Linked DNA regions of Homo sapiens: region 1 is linked to region 2. The links come from fine-mapping of genetic effects on gene expression. A gene starts in region 2. The other region holds a variant in brackets. All regions are shown on one strand. Distances are from middle to middle.

Region 1 (10,085 bases), 33 kb before region 2:
CACTCCAGCCAGGGCAACAGAGGGAAACTCTGTCTCAAAAAAAAAAAAAAAAAAAGAAGGCGAGAAACAGGTTGGCTGATATTTCTCAGAGGAACAAATTAGCCAAGAAGAAATGAGAGTGCCAGGAGTGGGGAAACTATTAAATGTGATTCTATATTTAATCAAATACCTAACTGGGAAAATAATAAAGATTGAGTAATGCTGCATAGATATGTTCTGAAATAATGTATACCAGTTTTAATATATCTGTATATACTTCTCTTAAAATAGTTTTATTCCTACATAATACATAATAGCTTATATATACCTAACATATTATATATAGAGGCATACCTTGGATATATTGTGAGTCCAGTTCCAGATCATCATAATAAAGTGAGTATCACAATAAAGGAACTATCTTTAAGGAGAGTCACACAAATTTTTTGGTTTCCCGGTGCATGTAAAAGTTACGTTTACACTATACTGTAGTCTACATTATGTCTGAAATAGCATTACATCTAAAAAAAAATGTACATACCTTAATTAAAAATTCTATTGCTAAAAATGCTAACGATCATCTGAGCCTACAAAGAGTGGTAATCTTGCTGATGGAGGGTCTTCCCTTGTTTGCTGCTGACTGATCAGAGTAGTGGTTGCTGAAGATTGGGGTGGCTGTGGCAATTTCTTAAGACAACAACGAAGTCTGTCACACTGATTGACTCTTCATTTCACAAAAGATTTCTCTGTAGCATGCAATGCTGTTTGTAAGCATTTTACATAGTAGAATTTCTTTCAAAATTGGAGTCAATCCTCCCAAACCCTGCAGTTGCTTTATCAATTTGGTTTATGTAATATTCAAATCCTTTGTTGTCACTTCAACAATGTTCACAGCATCTTCACCAGGAATAGATTCCATCTCAAGAAACCTTTTTTTCTGCTCACCCATAAGAAGCAACACCTTATCCATTCAAGTTTTCTCATGAGACTGCAACAATTCAGTAACATCTTCAGGCTCCATTTCTTACTGTTGGTCTCTTGCTCTCTGCACATCTGCAGTTACTTCTTCCACTAAAGTCTTGAACGCTTCAAAGTCATCAATACGGGTTGGAATCAAATTCTTCCTAACTCTTGTTCATGTTGATATTCTGACCTCCCATGAATCATGAATGTTCTTAATGACATCCAGAATGCTCAATCCTTTCGGAAGGTTTTCCATTTACTTTGTCCAGATCCATCAAAGGAATCACTATCTACAGCATTTAGCCTCATGAAATATAGTTCTTATTAATAAATAATAAGGCTTGAAAGTCAAAATTCCTCTTTGCTGCTCCATACGCTGCAGAAAGTACACTGTGTTAAGAGGCATGAAAACAATTCATCTCTGTCAGAGCTCTTGGGCGACTAGGCGCATCATCAAGGAGCAGTGATATTTTGAAAGGAAACTTTTTTTCTGGGCAGTAGGTTTCAACAGTAGGCTTAAAGTATTCAGTAAACCATGCTATAAATCGATGCACTGTCATCCAGGCTTTGTTGCTCCATTTCTAGAGCATGGGCAGAGTGGATTTAGCATCATTCTTCAGGATTCTTAAGATTTTGGGAATGGCAAATGAGCACTGGCTTCAACTTAAAGTCATTGGCTGCAAGATCCCCTAACAAGAGTCAGCCTGTCCTTTGTAGCTTTGAAGCTAGGCAATGACTTCTCTCTAACTAGCAAAGTCCTAGAAGATGGCATCTTCTTCCAGTAGAAGGCTGTTTCGTTTACACTGAAAATCTGTTTTTAGTGTAAACTTCCTTCATCAATTACCTCAGCTAGATCTGGAGATTTTGCTGCAATTTCTATATCAGCCCTTGCTGCTTCACCTTGTACTTTTATGGGGGTGACTTTCCTTATACCTTATAACTGACCTCTGCCAGCTTTCAACTTTTATTCTGCAGCATCCCCACCTCTCTCAGCCTTCATAACACTGAACAGAGTTAGGGCCTTGCTATGGATTAGGCTTTGTCATAAGGGAATGTTGTAGCTGGTTTTATTTACTACCCAGACCACTTGAACTTACTCTATATCAGCAATAAGGCTGTTTTGTTTTCTTATCATTCATGTGTTTGCTGGAGGAGGACTTTCGATCTCCTTCAAGAATTTTTCCTTTGCTTTCACAACCTGGCTAACTTATTTGGTACAACAGACCTAGCTTTTGGCCTGTGTTGGCTTTTGACATGTCTTCCTCGTAAGCGTAATCATTTCAAGCTTTTGATTTAAAGTGAGAGACATGCAACTCTTCCTTTCACTATAACATGTAGAGGCCACTGTAGGGCTATTAATTGGCTTAATTTCAACATTGTTGTGTCTCAGGGAATAGGCAGGCCCAAGGACAAGAAGATGGGAATGGCCAGTCAGTGGAGCAGTCAGAACACATACAACATTTATCAATTAAGTTTGCCATCTTATATCGCCAATGTTCATGGCACCCCAAAACAATTATAATAGCAACATCAAAGATCACTGATCACAGATCATAACAGATACAATAAAAGTTTGAAATATCGTGAGAATTACCGAAATGTGACACAGAGACACCAAGTGAGCACATGCCATTGGAAACATGGCATCAACAGAACTGCTTGACACAGGATTTCCACAAACCTTCAATTTATAGAAAAGGCATGATTTGTGAAGCACAGTAAAATGAGGTACGCCTGTATAATATTTTCTCTAATGCCTTGAAGATAAACTCGTGGAACATTAAAGTTACACTTAAATGTTATTATCCCAAGATGATTCTCCTTTAGAAGAATTAAACTGAATATTCTCTGAATTACAATACCAAAGGGCAGTCAAAGGGAAATTTCATTTTCTCATCAACACGAATGTTGTCTGAAGAGCCTTCCAAATTGAATATATATTTCATAATCCTATAATTAATGCTTGGTAACTTCACCTAGACAGAAAAATGAGATGCATTTCAACATGTACTTGATAATTTGTCAGCAACTGCCACCCCATTATCAATAAAAAAGAAGAAGAAAAGGCAAGAAAACCACCAACGAGGTCAAGTATACATGCTGGATTTTTAAAAATAATTCAATCTTTTTTCAAAACAAAAACCTCTGCACCCAGCCATTTAAACACATAAAGATCTATGGGGCCAGGAAAGGTGGATCATACCAGTAATAACAGCATTTTAGGAGGCTGAGGCAGGAGGATCACTTGAGCCCAGGAGCTCAAGACTAGCCTGGACAACAAAGTGAGACCTCATCTCTACTAGACATTTAAAAAATTAGCCAGGCATGGGCTGGGCGCAGTGGCTCACGCCCGTAATCCCAGCACTTTGGGAGGCCAAGGTGGGTGGATCATGAGGTCAAGAGATCGAGACCATCCTGGCCAACACGGTGAAACCCCGTCTCTACTAAAAATACAAAAATTGGCTAGGCGTGGTGGCACGCGCCTGTAGTCCCAGCTACTCAGGAGGCTGAGGCAGGAGAATCGCTTGAACCTGGGAGGCGGAGGTTGCAGTGAGCCGAGATCGCACCACTGCACTCCAGCCTGGTGACAGAGCGAGGCTCCATCTCCAATAAAATAAAATAAAATAAAATAAAATAAGCTAGGCATGATGGCATGTGTCTATAGTCCCTGCCACTCTGGAGGCCAAGGCAGGAGGATTGCTTGAGCCAAAGAGTTCGAGGTTGCAGTGAGCTATGATCATGCCACTGCACGCCAACGTGAGTGATAGAGCAAGACCCTGTCAAGGAATGGGACAGGGATGGGGACAGGGACAGGGAATGGAAGGGGAAGGGGAAAGGACTGCTTGAGGTCAGGAGTTTGAGAACAGCCTGAGCAACATAGCAAGACCCCGCATCTCTCAAAAAAAAAAAAAAAAAAAAAAAACACCTTAGCTAGCCATGGTGGTGCACACCTGTGGACCTAGCTACTTAGAAAGCTGATGTGGGAAGGTCATTTGAGCCCAGAAATTTGAGGCTGCAGTGAGCTATTATCATGCCACTGCTCCCCAGTCTGGGCGACAGAATGGGACCATGTCTCTTCCAAAAAAAAAAAAAAAAAAAAAAAAAAAAAGCCAGGCATGTTGGTTCATGCCTGTAATCCCAGTATTTTGCGAGGCCGAGGTGGATGAATTGCTTGAGTCTACGAGTTCAAGGCCAGCCTGGGAAATAGCAAAACTCCAACTCTACAAAAAATACTAAAATGGTGGTGGTGCATGCCTGTGGGGCCCCAGCTGGGGTGGAAAGATGGCTTGGGTACGGAAGGTGAAGGCTGCAGTGAGCCGAGATTACACGCCACCCCAGCCTGGGTGACAGAGTGAGACCCTGTCTTCAAAAACAAACAAATGA[C/T]GTTTTTAGTTTTGGAAAATTTGAAAACATCTTAAGTGCTTATCAACAAGGAATTATTTAAATCAGCAGTTCTCAAAATGTGGTCTGCAGACAGGCAGGAGGCCCTAAGATCCATTTTCATAATAATGCTAAGAAGGCACTTTGCTTTTCAGTATTCACATTTGCACTAACGGTGCAAAAGCAACAGTAGTTAAATCTGCTGGTGCCTTAGCAAGAACCAAGACAGTGACACAAAACTATACGAGTAGTCACTGTACATTTATTACTACCAACTCTCACAGTACTAATAATGTGAGTTTCATATAAGAATGCCTTTGGGCCAGGCATGGTGGCTCACACCTGTAATTCTAGCACTTTGGGAGGCTGAGGTGGGTGGATCACCTGAGGTCAGGAGTTCAAGACCAGCTTGGCCATCATGGTGAAACCCTGTCTCTACTAAAAATACAAAAATTAGATGGGCATGGTGGCAGGTGCCTGCAATCCCAGCTACTTGGGAGGCAGACGCATGAGAATGAACCCAGGAGGCGGAGGTTGCAGTGAGCCAAGATCGCACCATTGCACTCCAGCCTAGGCAACAAAGTGAAACTCCGTCTTGAGAACAAAAAAAAAGGAATGACTTTGATGAGGCAATAAACATTACCAGTTTCATTAAATTTCATTCTATTTCCATATTTTTCATAATCTGCACAAAAACCACTTCCACTACTGTAAAACAAAATACAATATTTAGGCAATTGTCTGAACTTAAGATTGTTGCTTAAAATTTAAGCTTTCAGTAGAAAAATCAGAATTTTAGAAAGATTTCATCTGCCACTGTAAGCCTGACAACTTCCTAAAAATCAAAGACGCTTAATGAGTTTAGAGGTAATATTAATGAATTATTATTGTTTGATACTATATAAGAAAATGTGTCAACATTGGAAGATCTGCATAACTCACTGAACCATTATTTTCCAAATAAGCAGTGTATGATGTTAAAAATCTTACACAGGTAAGAGATCCATTCCAGATGCAAGACACTGACAGACCAATGGATTTTAATGTAACAAAGTAGAAAAAAATTCTTGGATATGGTTTCAGATTCCACATTGCAACTAGCCTCTAAGAAACCTAGTATCTCTTTGAGCATGTGTCCTACGAAAAAGGGGGGGGAAAAAAGAAACCTAGTAGTGTATCAAAGGAGCATATCAACAATTATTTTTAAAGGCTTTTAAAAACTATTCTCCCTTTTCCAACCAAATACCTGTGTGAGGCTGTATTGTCTTCTTATACTTCCAATGAAACATCTTAACTCCATAGACTGAAGGCAGAAACAGCTATGAAAATCCAGTTGACTTCTAAGACGGCAAAAATGCGGCCAGGTGCGGTGGCTCATGCCTGTAATCCCAGCACTTTGCGAGGCCGAGGTGGGTGGATCATGAGGTCAGGAGTTCAAGATCAGCCTGGCCAACATGGTGAAACCCCGTCTCTATTAGAAACTACAAAAATTAGCCGGGCATGGTGGCACACACCTGTGGTTCCGGCTACTAGGGAGGCTGAGGCAGAAGAATCGCTTGAACCCGGGAGGTGGAGGTCCAGCCTGGGCGACAGGGCGAGACTCCGAAAAAAAAAAAAACAGATGGCAAAAATGCTGTTCTTCCCATTATATATTTTTTATTTCAAATAATTATTTTCATTACAAAATGTCACTTAGGTTAACATGTGATAGATTTTCTAAACGAATAATTTTACATTTCTCAAGTTTTTCAGGTGAAATTATACATTTTTAAATGTGAAAAATAAAATAACATCTTAGCATTATTTACTGTAAAAATATAGTAAATAACAATAGATAAAAATCCACATAAAGCTCTGTAGAGTCACCAATAATTTTTAAGAGTGTAAAGGAATTGTGAGACCAAATACTTGAGTACTGCTGATTTAAATAAAATATCATACATCCACGCAAGTGACTACTATGCAACTATTAAAAAGTTTAAAAAAAAAAGCTTAACTGTGTGGTAAAGTTTTCCTAAAATTGATATGAAACCCAGAAACCACTGAGGAAAAGCAGTATTTGCCTACATGAAAATTAAAGACCTCTAAAAAAAAAAAAACCATACAATTCCACAGACAATGTTAGAAGACAAATGATATGGATAACCTGTTTCTTTCTGACTTAATACTCCTCCAACTTCCCTGCCTTGGGTGAGTTAGCACTCTAATATAAAATGCTTGGAAATAAACTTGAAAAGATATTCCATAACTTGTTAGCTTGAAAGTAGGGGAAAAAAAAGATAATCCAAAAGAAAAAAAATAGAAGAACTGAATAATCTGTCCTCAGATAAAAACCACAAATCATCAATATGAAAATATTTTGAAACTTCAATTTTAAAATGCAAATTGAAAATACTGAAATTGTTTTCCCAAATCAGACTGGGACCAATCTGATTGGCAACAACTTAAAAGACTAATCACATGAGTTAGCAAGGATATAGAAACCAGGAACTCTCAAACTGTTAAGTCTAAGCCAATAAAACAGAATAATGTGGCAGTATCTGCGCAAAGGTTGTTAAAGGGTAATCTTTGTTCTAGGAGATCTGAAATTTTACCCTATATATTCACACAAGTGCACAATTATGTAAGGATGTAAATTACAGCACTGTGTGTAAAAAGAAAAATCTATACAGCCATTAATGTAAACCTAATAAAATATATGGTGGTATATCAATATAATGCAAGACGGTGGTTTAAAACAATGAGGTAAAATATGCACATACAAACAGAAAAGTCAACTGTATAGACGTATGTATTAAAAAGTATACATATGTGCATTTAATACTTCTGGAATACAAACCAAATTTAACATTGACTACTCTGGGGAGTGAAGAAAGTAAAATGCAAGAAGTAAATAATGAGAAAACTGCCAAAATTGGAGCCATAAAACATAGTATTTTTCCAAATGATACTTGCTATTTTACACAAAAAGTAGAATTTATAGAGAAACTGAAGTCCCCAGAGACTTCATTTTAAGATTTAAACTTTTTTTTTTTTTTTAAACTGATGAGGACACTTAAGAATCCCTTCTTAGACTCCATTCAAGCTGTGAGGGATATATGCCTTGTTTACTTCTCCCCACAATAAAAGTGACACCAAGAACTAGGTTCACAGACAGCTAGAAGATATACAGTTTGTTTCATATCACTGAAAAAAATGAAAAAAAAATGTGGGTTTTGGTGCTACTATTAGGTTAAACTATATAAGACTGCCTCTAACGAATTGTTCAACCTAATACATGTGGTACATTGCTTCCCTGAGGAAGGATTTTATCCTTTATAGACTGTTTGACCTCTGATGTCCCACTAGCTGAGAATCTCCATTGTCTAAAAAACTGATTTGTTCCTCACTGGAGGATATACTGAACCAAAGGGTCTCCTATGAGAAAACTGCATACAGCATATTTGAACTATTTATTTCAGTAGGTCTTCCATGATGAATAAAGGAAACATTTAAAAAAATTGAGATCATAAAAAAATTTTAATAAATGAAACAATTATAAATAGACTTGTGGACTCTTTTAAGTAGAGAGTGAATGGTCTGCCCTAAAAAAAGTAAATAAAAACAAAAAAAGACAAGAAATGAACTGAAATACTTCAAGAACCTCAGAAGTTAATTCCAATTTACTTTCCTCTAGATTGTTACAATGTTTCTGAACTGCCATTTTCTTCCCACCATCAGCATTCAGTGAACTCAAGTTAATTCTCATATACCCCAGAAAATAAATAAAAACAAACCTACTGGAAAGGAGTGGGAAGAGTTGGGAAAAGCCATATAATGAACTAATACTCAATTTCCTGTTACACTATTAACTATGAAAACTTAACTAATTTTAATCTGTCCCCTTTTCTAGTCTCTCACTTACAAACCAACCAACCTTCAAACTCCACATTCCCTGGCTCTCGTTTCTCATTCTCAGTCCAACTTCAAGTCACCTGTTCTTACTCTATACATCTGTATATCTCCTATTCACTCTTCAAACTGCCCTAATCTCTTTTTCCATGTTTTATGGAACTACTCTATGGAACCTTACTAAAAAACTTTTTCCCAAGTCAGCACGGACTTTTTTAAAAGTGTTCAATCCAATGGATATTTTGACATCTTGCTTCATTTGACCTTTTTAGCACATGTGCTGTAAACCACCCTATCTTAGAATAAACCACCTTCTTGGTTTCCATGACCACCACTGTCTCTTTTTTTTTTTTTTGAGATGGAGTTTCGCTCTTGTTGCCCAGGCTGGCAGGCAATGGCGCGATCTCAGTTCACTGCAACCTGCACCTCCTGGGTTCAAGCAATTATCTCACCTCAGCCTCCCGAGCAGCTGGGATTACAGGCGTCTGCCACCATACCCAGCTAATTTTTGTATTTTTTAGTAGAGACGGGGTTTCACCATGTTGGCCAGGTTGGTCTCAAACTCCTGACCTCAGGTGATCCGCCCGCCTCCGCCTCCGCCTCCGCCTCCTGAAGTGCTGGGTTTACAGGCGTGAGCCACCGCGTTGGGCGACCACCACTGTCTTTGTATGTCCATCCTTCATAGGCATTCTTCTTCAACAAAAGCCTCCTATATGATGCTAGTATCCCCGGTCTTTGTCCTGAGTCAAGTTCACTTCTCCTTAAGGGAACTTATTTACTAATGTGGCTTCCATTATGACCAATACTTTTCAAACTAATCTCTCACATAGCTCCTTTTGAACTCAAGACTCACACATAAAACTGTCTGCTGGTCATGGGTCATCCAAGTGAAAATAGAACCCTCAACCTTAGCATATCTAAAACTAGTCTCATAATCTAACTTTCCCTTCAAACTTGCCCCATTCACAATTTACCTTGTGGCCTAACTCAGAAAACCTAGGTGTTAGAAAGCTTACCTGTTCTGTAGGGGATGTTTAATATAGTGTTCTGGGTTAGCAACCTCCTGATTAGATTCCGTTTTCTCCTCTTCTGTAGTCGGGGGATTAGGAGTAGGGGTGGTTTCCTAGTGGAAAATAATATAAAACATTATTTTAAATGTCTTAACACATCTATGACAGCAATATTCTAACTAAACCTGAACTGATATGCTGATAATTTTTTTTTTTTGAGACAGAGTCTCTCTCTGTTGCCCAGGCTGGAGTGCAGTCGTGCGATCTTGGCTCACTGCAACCTCCTCCTCCTCCCAGGTTCAAGCAGTTCTCCTGCCTCAGCCTCCTAAGTAGCTGGGATTACAGATGTGTGCCACCATGCCTGGCTAATTTTTGTATTTTTAGTAGAGACGGGGTTTCACCCCGTTGGTCAGGCTGGTCTTGAACTCCTGACCTTGTGATTCACCTGCCTTGGCCTCCCAAAGTGCTGGGATTACAGGCGTGAGCCACCACACCCGGCACTAGTAGTATTTTTTAAGAAGAAGGAATTAAAGCAGATTGCTTCATAAAACAGACCACAGACCAAACTCTAAAGAACCATTCTCTATTCTCATATCTCTTCATTAAGAGCAAAGAGCAAACGGTTTCTCAAATTTGAAAATATAACAGTATTTATAGTTATCCTTCCACTTGCACTTTTTTTTTTAAATAGCAGGAAGACTGTCACAGACTATGCAACAAAGTTGGGAAAATCTTCTATCTTTCTTAACATACCATCATATTAAGATACTGCATATGGTACTGAAGGGGGTATCAGGAAGGATACAGGATGGAAACTAAAGTTTCAAGAGTATAACAACTGTATCACTGGGCACTGTGGTG
Region 2 (10,085 bases):
CTAAAGAAATCAAAATTAATCTCTTACCTCAAAAGGAACTACAAGTCAAAAAAAAATTTTTTTAATTCTAATAATGAACGATGTAGAATGAAGATAAAGCTACAAAGAAACACGACCTACTGGAGGTAAGATGGCCTTGCCATTTTCACAGACTAATATTAAACCTAATTTTGACCCAGCCACAATTCAAATGCCGATAGAATAACATCAGAGTACCGTTTGCCCTAACGTTCAAATTTTTGCCAAATTATCCGTTAAGAGGTAAAATGTTTCCCTTAATTTTCCCTTTCAAGCTTCTCAACAAATTTAATATTTGTGGGCCACATCTTCATGTAACTCAACTCATACAAAGAGAAAACCACACAATAATATCAAACTGAAAATGATATTTTATGTAATGTCCATAGACAAAAATCATCCAGATACCTATGCATGATGGGATAAGCAGGAAAAGCCCATGGCTCTTTTTAAGTGTTTATGATTATGCACAGCAGAAAACCATTATGGAAGCTCACAAACTAGCTGAAGTAAGAAAAAACATGATTTTTGCAGCCTTCAGCAGGGGTATCTCAAGTACAATCCAATTCTAATCAGTTGCTTCAAAAAAAAATCCAGGCGAGGCTCGGTGGCTCACGCCTGTAACCCAACATATTGAGAGGCCAAGGTGGGAGGACCACTTGAGTCCAGGAGTTTGAGACCAGCCTGGGTAACCATCGCGAGATTCCATCTCTACAAAAAGTTTAAAAATTATCCGGGCGTGGTGGCCTGCTCCTGTAGTGCTTGCTACACCAGAGGCTGAGATGGAAGCATCTCTTGAGCCCAGGAGTTTGAGGCTGCAGTGAGCTATGATCGCGCCACTGCACTCCAGCCCCAGCAACAGAGCAAGATCCTGCACCCCTACACACAAAATCCAACTATTTAAAACTGTCAAAAATAATTCCACATAACTAGCCTGTGCACAAGGGTATATTAAAAGTACTAAAAATTTTCAGGCCAGGCGCGGTGGCTCATGCCTGTAATCCCACCACTTTGGGAGGCCAAGACGGGCGGATCACCTGAGGTCGGGAGTTGAAGACCAGCCTGACCAACATGGAGAAACCCCATCTCTACTAAAAGTACAAAATTAGCCGGGCGTGGTGGCACATGCCTGTAATCCCAGCTACTCGGAAGGCTGAGGCAGGAGAATCGATTGAACCCAGGAGGCGGAGGTTGCGGTGAGCCAAGATCGCGCCATTGCACTCCAGCCTGGGCAACAAGAGTGAAAGTCAGTATCGAAAAAAAAAAAATTCATTTCTCACTAAAACTAAACACTTCGATACTATTTTACATATATTCTCAAAATACTTTAGTTTCCAGCTTCACACACTTTGTTTTTAGGTTCCCCTACTCCCCAAATTTAAACATAACATCCAAATCTCCCAAAGTCTGTACCAGAACAAATACTGTATCACTAACCACATCCCTAGGAATTAAGTTCCTTAAGGGTTTACATTCAACAAGACTCACATCTTGTATAACTTTGTATCCTAAAGAACACTTGGTACAACACCCTGGATATATCAGGAGCTATTAATATTTACTAACTCAAAATATAGTCCTTCATCACTTTGCAGTTCCGCTCTGTGCTGCTGAAACAAAACTGCATAAACTCTGCAAAACTCAAGGGACCTAAATGTGACAGAAACCTCACAGAACTCCTTATTGTTTTATAGTTTACAGTCTCGTAGCCTTGCCCCTATTACCAGATGTAATGCTTTTTACTGACACTAGTGTAGTGGGGTAGGAACAGATCTAGACAAAAGTGGACATCAGAACCTGTCAAGGGGTTTAAAATGTATATTTTACATACTTATTCTTCATTAGTGTTATGTAATATTAATGTCCTAAAGTCAGTTAACTGTAGCAACAACTTATGAGTTTTTCAGTCAATTTAATTCCCAGGAACATAAATGAAAACTGGTGCCAATAAAAAAACAAGTAAGCAAGCAGAGAAGCTGCCTTGAATTTTGACAAGGTAAGGATAGTTTACACCAACGCAATGAAAAATAAGCCTTTGTGTAGTCTATAAGAGTTTTTGAAATAGTTTTATAAAAGTCTTTAAAAGTGCCGGGTGCTGTGGCTCACGCCTGTAATCCCAGCACTTTGGGAGGCTGAGGCGGGAGGATCACTTGAGGTCAGGAGTTTCAGACCAGCCTGGCCAACATGGTGGAACCCCGTCTCTACTAAAAATACAAAAATTAGCCAGGCACGGTTGTGCGCACCTGTAATCCCAGCTACTCAAGAGGCTGAAGCAGGAGAATCGCTTGAACCCGGAGGCGGAGGTTGCAGTGAGCCGAGATCACGCCACTGCACTCCAGCCTGGGCGACAAAGCAAGACTCCATCTCAAAAAAAAAAAAAAAAAAAAAAAAAAAAAAAAGTCTTTAAAAGTCAAAGCAAACTGGTAAACCATTAGCAAAACCACAAGCTACCATGAAAAGATACACAAAAGTATCTGGCAACCAAGGTCTAGAGCTGGTTCCAGAGTGTGAAAGGTTTTCTGATTGCTAATAAACCCCATTATGCACACAAGATATCTTCACTTAGCTGTGTCGTTTCTAAAAAGGCAACAGGGCCCAGAAGTTTCAGTGAGCCAGTCCTGGCAAACCCAAATTATGAAAAATATACCCTCTGCTTAAAGATTAACTACAAACCTACCCTGGGACCAGCTTGCTTCAGTTAAGTTTAAAATGGTGCCTAAATTGAAATGAAAGTCTGTAGCATAGATAAAGAGAAAAAAAAAGTCAAATGGAAAAGTAAATTTAAAAGTTTCTATTTCCAATAAACTGCGTCTCAGAAATCTTCCAGGAGATAAAGACTCGGAAGAACAGAGGGATTGAGACCCATTCGCATTCTCTGAGGCGTGCGCACTACGCGGAAAGGATGAATGAATGGAAGACGGGCGCGTGTGAAATGCAGCAGGTCCGGCCGGCAAGCCGACCGGCTACAGCGATCTGTAGGCCTCGCTCCTCCCCCTTCCCTCCTCCATGACAGCCCAGTCCCAAGCATGGAGGGGCGAGGACAATGTGATACCCCTTCTCACCACCACCATCCCTCATTCTACTTGGAGAGCTTCACCGTGACACACGAGTGTTCCTTCCCACCCCAGACCTTTCTCGCTTCCCCTGGCGCAAACACCGGCAACTCTCCGGCGCGCTGGATTAACAGACGCTCGCCCCTCTCAACTCCCCTAAGCGAGGTCGAAGCTCCTCCGCGCGTGCCGCGGCACCACTCCCGCCTAACCCACCCTCCGGCAACACTCGCCCACCAGCTCCCCAGTCCACCGGTCTAAGGAAGACGTGCGCGCGCCCCGCACCCGAGCCCCGGAGCTGGGGTTCTGCAGGGAGGGAAAGGCTGCTCCAGGGCTCCCTCCTCCATCTCACTCCAGGCCGGCTCGCCGCCCACCCTGCCTGCGGATCCCAGTACTCGCTGGGAGCCGGCCCTGCGCCTTCCTATCATGAAGACACCATCCTCGCATACCCAGCCCAGAACCCCAGCTACCCTCCACCCTGTAGACACCTCGCGGTTCCGCAGGAGGCGCCACGCCGCCCCTCCCCCACACCGCTCCCCCAGTTCTCGGGCCCCCACCAGAAAGTGTGCGCTACACGCCGCCTCGGCCATCCTCCGGGACGTCCCCACTTGTCCGCGGGAGGTCAGGTCCAACATGAAGGGGAAGGGGCGGCAAGGGGTACAGTGCGCGCCGGGAACGCCGTCCCGCGGAGTCCCCCAGTCAGAAGGAAGACGGAGCGCGGGGACCCGTGGGGGTGGGGGCCAAAGGCAATACTCACCGGTTCGACAGTCGCCATCTTAGATCGATCTGATCGCACAACCGCTCCAGAAGGGGGGGTAAGAGGAAAAAAATGAGATTCAAACCGGATTGGCCAGCTTCTGGCCACGTGACGGATATGTCCGTTTGGCCCTGGCGGCACCTGCGCAAGACTGCGGCTGCGTGAGTAACGAGAGGCTTCTGGGAAGTGGAGTCTCTCCCCCACCTTTTTTTTTTTTTTTTTTTTAAGGTAAAGAAATTTTTTTTAAAAAGGACTGGTCACGTGGCCGATGGGTAGGGTGCGCGGTTCTCAACGCGGCGGACACTCGCTTGCTGGAGGGTGGTTTCAGTCCTCTGCTCTTCCGCCTGGATAGCTGCGGTCACACTTACTGCCAGGCAAGCCTACTGTGCCCTTTGTCGCCCTGTCCTCCCATCTTCCCCGGAAGGTTGGGAACTGCAGGCTCAGCACACACAATAAGGCTTCATTTGCTTAGTTGAGGTCCCAGGACAAGTTGCCTGTGTGTTTATTTAGTTTTCTTTTGATCTCCCACCATTTTCTCTTAGTTTCAAAAAGAGGCGGCGATGCAGAGTCGTTTAGGCAATCAACCCTCCCACGTCCCCTGGCTCAGCTAATGCTGGTGGTCATTCGTTGCCATTTCTGCGAAAGGGGACGGACGGAACCGCCCGCAGTACCCGCTTGCCACCGGCTGGACGAGGGGGAGGGACGACAGCTTTTACTGTCCCAAATCCTGAGATTAAGACCTCAGGGCTAAATCTTGCGTGGCGGTAAAAATTATTTGGAAGTTCTGTGCAACCGTTCCAATATTCCGCTTTTACGTGCACGGAAATAGCCTAAGTCCAGATGCCAGCCAGGGAAGCCACTCCGGGCCCCGCTGACTAAGCCCTGGACTGATGGTCTGGAGTCTTTAGGCCGGGTCAACTATGACTCTTGACGTTGACTCATTCTCCTTAGGCGAGTGACTTAATCGCTCGGCGTCTCAGCTTTTTTATTTATGAACCAAAGGTGATGATACACTTACCTCACAAGGGTGTGCTTCGTAATGACTGTAACCGGCTTTGAAAATGCATCGGACTCTAGAAATGATTCATAATAAGCAACTGCGTGCCTTCCTAAAGATCAAGTGCTTCTGCTTTTTTTTTTTAGCAAAGTTTAAATTTTTTTCTGTTTACTTTGTTTGATTATGATGTACACCAGTGTAGTTTTAAATGTTCAGGACCATTTTTTTTCCTTTACAACTGCAGCTGCCCTCAATAGAGGCTTTAATGTTCATGAAATTATTGTTATGCTCACAACAATCACTGGCAATCAGAAATTTGTCCCCACACTGGCATCCTACATTTCCTTTCCCTCTAAGATACTGTGCTGTCATTTCTCAAGACCGTGTTTTTTGCACAGTTTGGCTACTAATAACAACAAATAGAGATGAAGAAATCTAGTAGACTCCTAAGGTTCTAATGAAGAAGACACTGTCTCATTACTATTTCCCATGCTTTTAAATAATGTTGACACCAGGAAAAGGAGTGTATGCAGGCTGCCTGTGCCTGTCTGCTTATAGTGTTAATGAGGTCCAGAGCTGTGTCATACCTATTATTGAGTACATAATGGATGCTTGAGTTGACTAACACATAATTGAGGCTGTATGAGAACTCAAAGCCATTGCCTGTTCATATGTTTTGGTTTACCTGAATATCAGAAGTGATTAATGAAAGCTTTTGTCTAGTGGGCTTAGCTCTACTAGGTTTTAAAGTAGATAGAATTAACAGGCCAGGCGCAGTGGCCCACGCCTGTAATCACAGCCCTTTGGGAGGCCAAGGCGGGCGGATCACCTGAGGTCAGGAGTTCGAGACCAGCCTGACCAACATGGTGAAACCCTGTCTCTACTAAAAATACAAAAATTAGCCAGGCATAGTGGCACCTGCCTGTAGTCTCAGCTACTCAGGAGGCTGAGGCAGGAGAATCACTTGAACCTGGGAGGTGGAGGTTGCAGTGAGCCAAGATCCCGCCACTGCACTCCAGTCTGGGCGACACAGTGAGACTCCATTTCCAAAAAAAAAAAAAAAATGATAATAAACGGATAAGTGGATTTCTACTTACAGAGACTATCTACTGTTACTTAGACTATCCAAAATAATTCTGTTGACCGCGTTGTTATTTTCTGCTGGTTAGAAGTGGTGTCAGGTTACCTTCTTTGAAGAGAAAAAGACAGCATAGATGTCCTATTTTCCCCTTCCCCACCCTTCCCCACCCTTCCTCTCCCTTCCCTACCCTTCCCCTCCCTTCCCTTCCCTTCTCTTCCCCTCCCCTCCCCTGTCCTCCCCTCCCCTCCCTCCCCTCCCCTCCCATTCTCTCTCTCTCTCTCTCTTCCTTCCTTCCTTCCTTCCTTCCTTCCTTCCTTCCTTTCTTTTTGTCTTTTCAGGGTGTTGCTCTGTTACCCAGGCTGGAGTGCAGTGGCATGATTATGGCTCACTGCAGCCTTGACCTTCTGGGTTCAAGGGGTCCTCCCACCTTAGCTTCCCAAGTAGCTAGGACTACAGGCATGGGCCACCATGCCTAGCTAATTTTTTTATATTTTGCAGAGACAGGAGCGTCTAGCTATGTTCCCCAGGCTGGTCTCAAACTCCTGGGCTCAAGCGGTCCCCCTACCTGGGCCTCCCAAAGTGCTGAGATTGCAGGCATGAGCCACCATTCCTGGCCAGATGTCCTATTTTCATGAAGCTGTTATATAACAGCAAAAAATCAATGAGATTGGCAAGAAAATACCTATAGGACTGAAAGCCAGTGATGTTCTTAAAACTTTTTTTAAACAACAGTTTCCATTTTTATTAAATTTTCTGTTAATCAAAAAACTCGGGCCGGGCACGGTGGCTCATGCCTGTAATCCCAGCACTTTGGGAGGCCAAGACGGGCGGATCACGAGGTCAGGAGATCGAGACCATCCTGGCTAACACGGTGAAACCCCGTCTCTACTAAAAATACAAAAATTAGCTGGGCATGGTGGCAGGCGCCTGTAGTCCCAGCTACGCGGCAGGCTGAGGCAGGAGAAAGGAGTGAACCCAGGAGGTGGAGCTTGCAGTGAGCGGACATCGCGCCACTGCACTCCCTCAGTCTCAAAAAAAAAAAAAAAAAAAAAACTCCCTCTTGTCAACCAAGACTCATACTTTTACAATACTTATGGATGCTCTATTCTTTATGGTTTAGTTTCTTTCCATTTTTTACATAGTTTTCAACAATTTTTCTTTATAATTTTCAAGCACAGAGTTTCAGGAAAATCTCCATTTTTGTATATACTTTGTTGTGTGTGTTTTATGACCATTAATGTGTCTTTGCCTATTTGAGATTCTACCATTTCAAAGATTTAACGATTAGGTTTTTATGTATGTGTGTATGTGGTTGTTTTGTTTTGTTTTTGCCAATCCTAAATATATAGAGCTGAAATTTTATGTTTTATTTCTCTATTTATTCTCTATTATTCTTTATTGCTCTTCAAAGGACTTGTAATTCCAAGTTCATTTACAGAACTGACCAGAAACCATCCAACAAGTACTAAGTTAGTAATGGGAACTATGTAACCAGTGGAGGATATTTAAAGGACACAGGAAGTACAGGCACTTCCTTCCCCGACTGTAAAATCTGGTTGGCGTACTAAGTCATAGAAATATAAATAGTTCAGTACCCATATAAAGAGGTGTGACTAAGAACCAAGAGGATGCAGTTAACAAGCACCATAACCAGCACACATTCACATAATGAATGAGCGAATCATATACTTCCTTCCCTCATTTCATCCAGGCCTCTGTTCCAATGTGATCTCCTGAAGGAAGGCTTCCTTGACCACCCTATCTAAATTACTGTTTCCATTACTCTTTATCCCCTCACTCTGCTTTGGTTTTCTTTAGGCCACTTCATAACCCTAACTCTAAACTTGCTGTTAAACATTATTTAATTAGTTGTTGATTGACCCTACTACTAAAATATTAGCTCATTGATGATTTGTAGATAGATTGCTATCAAATATTTGGGGAAAACTCAAATGTAATTTTTTTTTCCCGAGATGCAGTCTCACTCTGTTGCCCAGATCTTGGCTCACTGCAACCTCTGCTTCCTGGGTTCAAGCGATCCTCCTGCCTCAGCCTCCCAAATAGCTGGGACTACAGGTGCGTGCCACCACACCTGGCTAACTTTTGTATTTTTAGTAGAGATGGCCAGCCTGGTCTCGAACTCCTGACTTCGTGATCTGCCCGCCTCGGCCTGCCAAAGTGCTGGGATTACAGGCCTGAGCCACTGTGAACCCTTATTTTAATTTTACAGTTTGAGAGACACCAATTCCCATTACCTACTCAGGACATTGCTTAAAAACATGGGATGTACGCAAACATGACCAAGGAATTTTGAATATTAAAAGATTGGAGCAGAATTGGAATTTAAAAAATTATTTTATTATTCTAGTTAGTTTTTTGTTTACTCTCTCCTTGGTGATTTTTATGAGACTGAGGCACTACCTACTGGCTAAAAAGGCACCTTGATTTTTAAAAGAAAATCAAGAAAAAGAAAAAGAAAAAAATTTTTTAAGGGAAACCTCTTCTGCTATTCTAATATATCCGTGTGCCAACATTTTATGCTTTTACAATTATAGGGTGCAAAGAGTTTTTGTTTGTTTGTTTAGAGACAGGGTATTCCTATACTACTAGGCTGGAGTGCAGTGGCACAATCCTGGCTTACTGCAGCCTCTAACTCTGGGGCTCAAGCGATCCTCCCACCTCAGCCTCCTGAACGATGGCTAAGACTACAAACATGTGCCACCATGCCCAGCTCATTTTTTTATTTTTTGTAGAGAAAAGATCTTGTTATGTTGCCCAGGCTAGTCTCGAACTCCTGGGCTCAAGTGATCCTCTGGCTTTGGCCTCCTAAAACTCTGAGATTATATGTATGAGTCACCCCCAGCCTGCACAAACAATTTTGAATTCTACATTTTTTTCCACATGACATCTTATTGCAAACATTTTGGACATTGCCTATAGATGGGATAACAGTTTTTAAACTTTTTTTTTTTGGAAAAATTTTAAACTTACAGAATACTTGTAATAGTAACTCTTCTTCTAAGCCCTTCTAAATTCACCAATTATTAATTTGTTGCATTGCCTCTCTTAATCTCATTACTTCTGAACCATTTGAGAGGAAGTTGCAGGCATGATGATCCTTTACCTCTAAATACTTCAGCATGTTCCTCCTATGAATAAAGACGTTTTCTTACAGCACCGTAATACAAATAATGAAATCATGAAATATAATAGTAGTTTTATCTAAAATAAAAACCATAAAATCAATATTCGTATTTTGCCAGTTTCTTCACTCATTTTGACAGAAATACTACAAAAATAATATTGTATTCTTCCTGGTGCATCACATCATCGGTAACATTAGTGGCTTCAGAATATTCTGCTGAGTGGATATATCACAGTTCCCTTAATCAGTTCCAAATGGTTACATATTCAGGTAATTTCCAGTCTTATATTATTATAATGTTCTAATGCATACATTTATGAGAAATGTGTTTTCCTATTTAGATGATTTCCTCAGGACAATTTTTCATCAATAGAATTAGTTTATAGGATACATAGTTTTGACTGTTTATACATAATGGAATTCATGTTGCTCTCCAAAAGTGTGGTATCGGCATGAGATGTCACAGCCAACTTATCAGTGTTGGGTGTTAAAGGAATTAAAAGAATGTATCGTTAATGATTCTTGTTGCTAGTTTCAATATTTACTTATTCACAGCCTTTACCTTTGTTCCATTACCTGTTATTTTGGAAATGTTGAAATCTACAAAAAATTTGAAACAATACAACAAACACTTATAAACCCTTCACCTAGATTCTCTAGTTGTTAATCTTTGAATCAATAAGGATTGATAAGGGCTGGGCGTGGTGGCTCACACCTGTAATCCCAACACTTTGCGAGGCCGAGGAGGGTGTATCACTTGAGCTCAGGAGTTTTGAGACTAGCCGGCCAACATGGAGAAACCTCATCTCTACTAAAAATGCAAAAATTAGCCAAGCATGGTGGCGTGCACCTGTAGTCCCAGCTATTCAGGAGACTGAGGCAGGAGAATCACTTAAACCCAGGAGGCGGAGCTTGCAGTGAGCTGAGATCGTGCCACTGCACTCCAGCCTGGGCGACAGAGTGAGTCTGTCTCAAAACAAACAAACAAATAAGGACTGATAAGAATACTGATGTAATTTTGAAAAGTATGTAGTAGC

Which allele goes with the higher level. Alleles are on the strand shown, and positions count from the first base shown. SD is a standard deviation of normalised expression in the study named.
For the expression in pancreas of the gene that starts at base 3,864 in region 2, allele C in region 1 goes with a higher level than allele T (small effect, 0.38 SD a copy in GTEx).

What was found. PIP is the estimated chance that this variant, and not a neighbour inherited with it, causes the effect.
Region 1: its variant is fine-mapped to the expression of EIF4E in pancreas (GTEx, PIP 0.99).

The regions. Positions count from the first base shown.
Region 1 is chr4:98,892,646-98,902,730 of GRCh38, forward strand. EIF4E (eukaryotic translation initiation factor 4E) reads right to left here. Exons shown (of 7, transcript NM_001968.5): 2 at 9,231-9,337. Among named protein-coding and RNA genes, the nearest start is that of EIF4E, 31 kb to the right of the region's middle. The variant C/T (reference allele first, on the strand shown) is at 4,327.
Region 2 is chr4:98,925,270-98,935,354 of GRCh38, forward strand. EIF4E (eukaryotic translation initiation factor 4E) reads right to left here and starts at 3,864. Exons shown (of 7, transcript NM_001968.5): 1 at 3,826-3,864. The coding sequence starts at 3,843. RefSeq lists an enhancer at 4,258-5,457 and a silencer at 7,363-7,412.